2 linked regions of the Homo sapiens genome follow. The protein of the gene in region 1 interacts with the protein of each later gene in a pairwise test. Each region holds a gene or a part of one and is shown on either strand. Other genes may lie near its edges.

Evidence for each region. The genes of interacting proteins can lie anywhere in the genome.
Region 2: the proteins of FXR1 (region 1) and SYNGAP1 interact in binary tests that used the Homo sapiens proteins (3 or more experiments, as listed by UniProt).

What each region holds. Positions count from the first base shown.
Region 1 is NC_000003.12:180,911,002-180,914,751, forward strand, and holds the start of FXR1 (RNA-binding protein FXR1), read left to right. Parts: upstream 1-1,668; 5' UTR 1,669-1,684; coding exon 1,685-1,735; intron 1,736-3,650; exon of another isoform or gene 3,651-3,750. UniProt on the Homo sapiens protein: mRNA-binding protein that acts as a regulator of mRNAs translation and/or stability, and which is required for various processes, such as neurogenesis, muscle development and spermatogenesis.
Region 2 is NC_000006.12:33,422,915-33,426,664, forward strand, and holds part of SYNGAP1 (ras/Rap GTPase-activating protein SynGAP), read left to right. Parts: intron 1-562; coding exon 563-684; intron 685-2,883; coding exon 2,884-2,989; intron 2,990-3,750. UniProt on the Homo sapiens protein: Major constituent of the PSD essential for postsynaptic signaling. Inhibitory regulator of the Ras-cAMP pathway.

The DNA.
Region 1 (3,750 bases):
ACAGTGAGCTATGATTGTGCCACTGCACTTCAGCCTTGGCGATAGAGATCCTGTCTTAAAAAAAAAAAAAAAAATAGGCCGGGAGTGAATACATAGGCTGGGCACGGTGGCTCATGCCTGCAATCCCGAGGCAGGCAGATCATGAGGTCAGGAGTTCCAGACCAGCCTGGCCAACATGGTGAAACCCCATCTCTACTAAAAACACAAAAAGATTATCTGGGTGTGGTGGTGCGCGCCTGTAATCCCAACTACTCCGGAGGCTGAGGCAGGAGAATCACTTGAACCAGCAGGCGGAGGTTGCAGTGAGCTGAGATCTCATCACTGCACTCCAGCCTGGGCGATAGAGCGAGATTGTCTAAAAAAATAATAATAAATAAAATAAAATAAAATAAAATAAATATTGTAGTCCTAGCTACTCGGGAGGCTGAGGTGGCAGCATCACCTGAGCCTGGGAAGTCCAGGCTGCCACGTAATCACGCCACTGCACTCCATCTTGGGTAACAGAGTGAGACCCTGTCTCTAAATAAATAAATAAATAGAATATCCTGTACATAACAACAGTGAGCACTTTCACAGCCCTCATTTTTTCCCAGAATCTTCAGAGATGCAGACGTGCTCATAAAATGTTGTGTACATTTTATTTTTTTAGAATCTGAAAAACTGGGTCAGTGGGCGTTTCATGGGAAGTATAGAATGTTAGCAAAGTATCCTTTCTTAAGTTTTTCTGCGAAAACGGTAATAATGTAAGTATAACAAGGAGCACTTATAGTATTATTTTCCAAAGCCCTTGCTTAGGGAAGGAGCTTCAGTATTAAGTTGTTAAAATCCATACCCAAAGTATTTGTTATGCTTACAAAACTGGAGATGGTTCTGCTTTGATCCTATTTGCGGAAATTTGCATGCATTTAACAGAGGAAAACGTGGTCTCCTGCTCTATTAAGTTTGTCTGACTACTTTTAATAAGGCGAATTCACCTAAACTCTGTTCTAGGGTGTGAACACAATTACTTGCCCTGAAAATACTCAGTTTGACTTTTAAAGAGCTAAAGTGGTAACAGGTGGGGAGAGGGCTAGGCCAAATTGTTTGAGGGGGTGTGGAACTGTGGAATTTGAGTGAAGAGAAGGCCCAACTTTTTTTAAAAAAAGAGCGGGGCGAAATAACTTGGGGCACAACAGTATGTCTATTTTGTAGGCATCCCTCTTCCCCAGGGCAACTGGAGCCCAAAAAGTGGGTGAGAAAGCCATTCCAGGGCAGCCAGCACTTCCAGAAGTTTAAGGTCAGGATGCCGGAGCTCAGGGGAATGCCGATGCGCCGGGCAGGCTGTGCCTGGGCAGTTCATTCTGTGGCAGCTGGAGGCACTACTCGGCCGCCGCGGTGCGAACTGCGGGCACTGTGGGGCGGAGACCTAGGGGCGGGTCAACAAAGGTCGGGCGATTGTGTCTGGAGGCAAATCCGACGTAGACGGCGGCAGGCGGAGCCCAAAGCCGGTGATGCAGGGTGCGCAGGGATCCCACCTGGAGAGTCGGGGCGGCACGTTGAGACCCCAGGGGTGAAGGGCGGGGGATCCCAATCCCAGCCCTGTTTTCCCCTCCCCTTTCCCCGCCTCCTTCTCGCCCCTCCCCCCTCCTCCCCTCTGGTTGGAAAGTTTCTAGAATCTCTTCCCAGCGGCCTTTGCGGTTCCAACATGGCGGAGCTGACGGTGGAGGTTCGCGGCTCTAACGGGGCTTTCTACAAGGTACTGACCGTTTTGCCACTTTGTCGAGTGTTCTGGGTGCTGGAGCGCGTTTGAGGGAGGGTTGGTGGTCCCAGAGAGTGAGGTTTGGGGTCGGAAAGGCAGCCAGGCCAAAGCTCGAGGCCGCTGGATTCCTTGCTTCTCCCCCCTCCACCCGCGGTTTAACGGTCTCGGGGGCCGGGGCTCCGTTATGTTTTGAAACAACACGTCGGACACCTCTTGCATTTTCCTAGTTATGAACCCTCTTGGTTGCTAGTGCGGTTCTTGGCGGGCCGGTGGGAAGCAACTGAGTGGCTGCTGGGCGGCGGGAGCTCCTTCGGAGCAGGCCCGAGCTCTGGGAGGTGGGGGAGTCGTGAAAGGAGGCGGTGGGATTGTGTGGTCTCACCCGCTCCCCCGCCCCTCGAACTGGGCCGGGCGGGAGCTCCTCAGCCCGCTCCTCCGACCCCTCCCCACCCCTTGGGGCGGGTGTATCGCGGAATCTTTGGAATTCACCCTTGTATTTGAGTTTTGGGCCAACAAATCTTTAGTGTCTGAGGAGAATGGGGGTACCGGATTGAGGGTTAGGATCAAATACAGAAAAGCAGAAAACCTTGAATTGTGGCGGGTTGGAATATTTTTGCGGCCTGGGAAATTGGGCGGCGCCTTAGCCCCTCTATTACGGAAGAAAAGGAGAGTTGTGAGCTTTAAAGTAAGATTTAAAATGCGAAATGGATCAGGGAGATAGGTGGAGAGGTGACTAATTTCTTTATATCACTGCCCCTGTTTTTGGAGGGAGGTTTTGTTTTGTTTTGTTTTTTCTCCCACGAGGTTTTTTGTTTGTTTGCTTGGGAGGAAGGACATCCATTACTATGGAATCGGGGCTGAAAAACGTAAGAGGAATAGAGTAGAGGAATTTGGTGGGGCATTCAGCGTTCACATATCTGAAAATGAAATCCTAATAGTTTATTTTTTGCCACTATAGCGTTCTTTTCTCCTTATTTTCCCGAAATACGCCAGGTTGTTAGAAGATCAATACAGAATCTCCCCAGCTGTTGTCTGTCAGTCAATCTCACTAAGCCAGCATCTCAAATGTTTGAGAGTCTTGGCTATTTTTATGAAGGGCCTTCTTCTAATACATGAGTATTGTGCGTATGCAAAGTGAATTCTCACAGGTTTTCATTTCAGCGTACCTTTTATCCTATGGGTTTTTATTTTATTTGGCCACGATTTTCTATTTTCAGCATTTTGATTTTCTTTTCTTAGTTTACTGATTAGCTCTGTGGATTTGGTTTAACTGTCACGTGGTACCAGCATAATGGGGAATCACAGCGTATAAAGGATCCCCCTAAGCTTTTTGCAAGTTTAAATCTCCTTAGGTGGTAAACTTAAAGTAGGAACAGTGCCTGTTGGAAATGAGACTTTATGTTAATGCGTGAGTAGTTAACATTGACGTTCTCGGTTTAAGACTTGATGTCAGACCAATGACCTAGGTGAAATTTGAGTACATAGTTAATTGACTTTTGTTGTTATTGAAACCTGGTGGTTGCTTTCCCTGGACTACTGCAGATACAGTTCGCTGGGTAAGACGGCGAAAAGAATAGACTTATCTATGTTTTTCCTATCAATTGTAGATAAGTCGTTTTGCATCACCCCCCACCCCTTTCCCGAAAAGTTTTAAATTCTCACTATTTGGCCCTGTAGTTCTTGTATAAGGGAGGTATGCATTTTTTCTTGCATATTGGAAAAAATAAAGTGATTATTTTGCTTTATTTCATGGTTCTGCATCATGCATGTGGTAGACAACTATTTTTAGCAAAGTATATTTGTCAATAGCCTGCTATGCAAGATATTTTTTCCTTTTTTTAATAAGGTGAAGGTAATTTTAGTAAAGATTGTTTGCAGTCTTACTTTGGTTTCTCACGGTATTTTTTTTTTCCAGTCAATTCACAATGAATCAAATGTCCCCATTTTGGAACTCTGAAGTATTTATAATTGATCTCTATACATATCTACAATCTACTGCTTGTTTCTACTTAGAC
Region 2 (3,750 bases), on another chromosome or scaffold:
TTCTTTTCTAGATATTTAGCCCTCAGAATCTCATGATCCCAATGTTCCTACACACACACCCCATCCTTCTTTCCCACAGCCATGTAGCTTTCCTCATACTCTTTTATAGAGGGGTGGTGCCACCTTCCAAGTCCTTGTCTTCTGCAGCTATTTGGATGCCTTCCTCTACCCAGATATCTGACACCAACTTCTCTGTTTTTCTCCTGCCAATTTTGCGGCACCTCTACCTTATTTTCCTGAAGTAGATGGAGAGCTCCTTCATCTTTCTCTGCCCCCAAACGTGTACCTTCTCTGTCATATAATTCCCATCCCTGAACCTCTGCATTTCTTCCCCCAAGTCTCCAGAGCCTTCTGTGATGTGATCCTCTCCTCTTTTCCCCTTTGTATAAATGCTTGTCTTGTGTTCCTTTAGAGTTGCCAGGTGTCTCACTTTCAACTGTGATCTCCTGAAGGCCGGTAGGGTCCCCTTCTCACTTTGTGGACTCTCTTCTTGCCATTTTAGGCCTCTGCTTCCAAATGCATAGAGCCTCCCTTACTGTTTCTGTGTGTCTCTGTCCTCCAGATGTACGGGGACCCTCTATGCACCGAACCCAATACGTTCATTCCCCGTATGATCGTCCTGGTTGGAACCCTCGGTTCTGCATCATCTCGGGGAACCAGCTGCTCATGCTGGATGAGGATGAGGTGAGTGTGGTGAGAAGGCTGGGAAAACGCATGTGGGAGAATGGGGAGAGTCCTCATTAGTGAAGGGGAGAGAGACACAAAGAAGGCAGACAAAGAAGAAACATTTGCAAATGGCAGGAGGGTGGCCATTGAGACTTGGGTTGGAGTGTGACAAGAGGGGTAGTCATTCTCTCATCTTGGGCAGGGAGTCTTTGAGGGTTATGAGCTGTGTTGGGGAGGAGATGTGGTTCTGAAGATTTCGGGGGTGGGGAGGCTCCTGTTTTCACACTGTCCATATTGTAGGATAGGTTAGAATGGGGAAGGGGAACTGAAGGGTTTGGAGAAGGGGTGAAGACATGGAAGGCCCTCCCAACCAAAGCAATCCTCAGGACCCCTCTCTGCTTTGCCCACTGAGCAAGACTCCCAGTCCTTTCTCCATCAGGGGGCAGAGTGCAAGAAGAGAAATTGCAGGACGCAGAGAAAAGGCAGGGGATAGAGGAGGTTTTAGGTAGCTGGAGGATACTGGGAAAGAAGACTGAGGTCAGTGGATCTTGGCATGATGGGGTGAAGACTGGGAGAGTGATTGAGATCAAGGTTTAGAGAGACACTGAGAGGGCTTCTGCAAGGGAGTGGTTGGACATCAGGAAGGAATATAAGGGAGGGGAACTGGGAGTATGTGGAGTTATCTAAAGGAGTACAAGTGGAGTAGGGGCAGGGACTAGCCAGAGTAAAGGAGATGAAACGGACAGAGGCCTCTTATGGGAGGTGGTGGCCAGGTATGGAGATCTGAGAGCCAGGGAAGTGTGGGTTCTGATTTGGGAGCTGGGTCAGCAGGAGTGTCCATTGGAGGAAATAGAGGATAAAAACTGGAATGGTGCCCCACAAGTGTGAGTCAGGGAATGGGGGTGATTTGGGGGACAAGCTTTAAAAAATGGTAGGGTAGCCTGGAAAACCAAACGTGGTGAGAGATGGACCCTGAAAGTTATTGGGAATGGTGTGATGAGGAAGGGTTAGAATTTGAGTCAGGGCTAACTAGAGTGTCAAGGGACCTATGGGGGCAGGTGAGAGTGTGGAGAGATGGCTGGGTAGACAGCTTCCAGGCCACAGAGTAAAGTAGAGGTGTTAAGGAGAGGATATGGTGACTTTGAAAGGAGAGGTGGCTTGGGGAGTCTAAGTTTTGGACACCATTGGGAGACATTTGAGTGACTGTGGTCAAACCCCTAGATCAAGGTTTGGAGTCTGTAGGAGAAATGGGGGAAACTGGAACCCAGAGTGGGGACTGTTATAGGGATGAAGAGGGAAGACAATGGATTGGGGTAATGAAGGAATGACAGAGATAGGGACAGACTGAAGGGACCAGTGGCCAGCAAGTTGAGGGGCAATAGGAATGGCCGGTCTGGAGCAGGAAGGGCGTGTGTGTGGGAGGAGGAGTAGATAGAATTGGGAAAATGAGCAGCCTGAACAGACGCAGGGAGTTGGAATTGGATGGGTGGTGGAACTGGGGCTGGGGGATAGTGAGGGGTCTGTTCCTGTGGCTCTTTGTAGAGGTGGAGGAGACTGCAGGGGTGGAGGTGTATGGAGGTAGGGATGGAGGTGGACAGGGGGAGCTGGGTGTGAAGCTTAGGGAAAGGTGATGGCTGAGGGGAAGAAGGGAACTGAGAGATGCTGGGTCGGGTGATGGAAGGAGATGAAAGGTGGGGGAAGGTGACCAGGCCCTCTGGCGGGAGGGGAGGTTGGGTCCCAGTCTGGCCGCAAGCCGGGCCGTGGGAGGGAGACAAGCTGTGGATCCTGATTATAAATGCAGCTTCTGCTACCCCCGTGACAGGCTCGGAGGGAGAGAAGGGGGTAAGGGAGGTGGGAGGTTGGGAGGAAAGCAGGGAGAATGGAGGAACTGAAGGTCAAGGGAAAACTGGATTCAGGAAGTAGCTAACTTCTGAGGAGTTGCAGAAGAGCTGAGTAGGGTTTGGGAGAATTCTCCGGAAGGTGTTTCAAGACAAATGGAGGGAGAAAAGAGGGTGGGACGGCAAAGAATGAGAGAGAGAGACTGGGGGAGAGAAGGGAGAGATCCAGTCACCAAGTGTGGAGGGGCCGGGGCAGAAAAAGTGGGCAGGCTTAGGGGGAAAAGGAGGCCCGCCCTTCCTGGGAGGAGGCGGAGGGGGGAAGAGGGAGGGGAGGGGCGGCGTGGGCCAGGGAGGTCTGACACACCCCCACCTCCCCTAGATACACCCCCTACTGATCCGGGACCGGAGGAGCGAGTCCAGTCGCAACAAACTGCTGAGACGCACAGTCTCCGTGCCGGTGGAGGGGCGGCCCCACGGCGAGCATGGTACGGCGGCCGAGCAGGCTCTCATGACCCGGACAGGCGCGGGGAGAGGGCTGAAGATGGACCGGGCTGGCGGGGCGGGGGCGTCGGGGAGCGGCGGGAGCTGGCCGGGGGCGGGAGAAGGCGGAGACAAAGTCTTGCTTCCCGAGGGGAGATGGCGCCCTCCTCTGGAAGGTGGAGCGGGACAGGGGCTGTGGGTGAGAGGCCCCTGTGGGTCCTCGCTCGGCTTCGCTCCCTTTCTCCTCTCCAGCAGTGAAGTTTGACTATTTTCCTGGTGCTTGTAAAAATAGTCTCCTTAGATCTTTAGCTTCCAGTCCGTGTGTTCCTGCCCCTGCCCCTCCCAGCCCCTGGTCTGGGATCTTGGAAAGAATGACCTAGTTCCTGCCCTCCCCCCAGACCTCTTCCCCACCCCTATGCTCCTGATTCTTCTTCCGGACCTTCAGTCCTTGAGGTCTCCTTTTATTACCCCCTGTTTTCTCCTCTCATCAGCTGCTTCTATTTTCTGCAATTGTATCACCCTTTCTCTTTCCTCCCTGATTTCTCTTATTTTCTGTACCCCTCTTGATTACCCCGTCCCTCCCCTCTGCTCCCGGCGAAAGTCCATCAGACTCCCATCTCATCTCCTTTCTGTCTGTAGAGCTATCTGCGCGGTCTGTCTCTCCAACTCTCTCCCTCTCTCCATCTGTCTCTTCCCCTCCCTCCCCCTTTCTGCCCCCCCAACCCCCTCTTTAGTCATTTAAAAAAAGATTTTTGTCTTCCTGAGA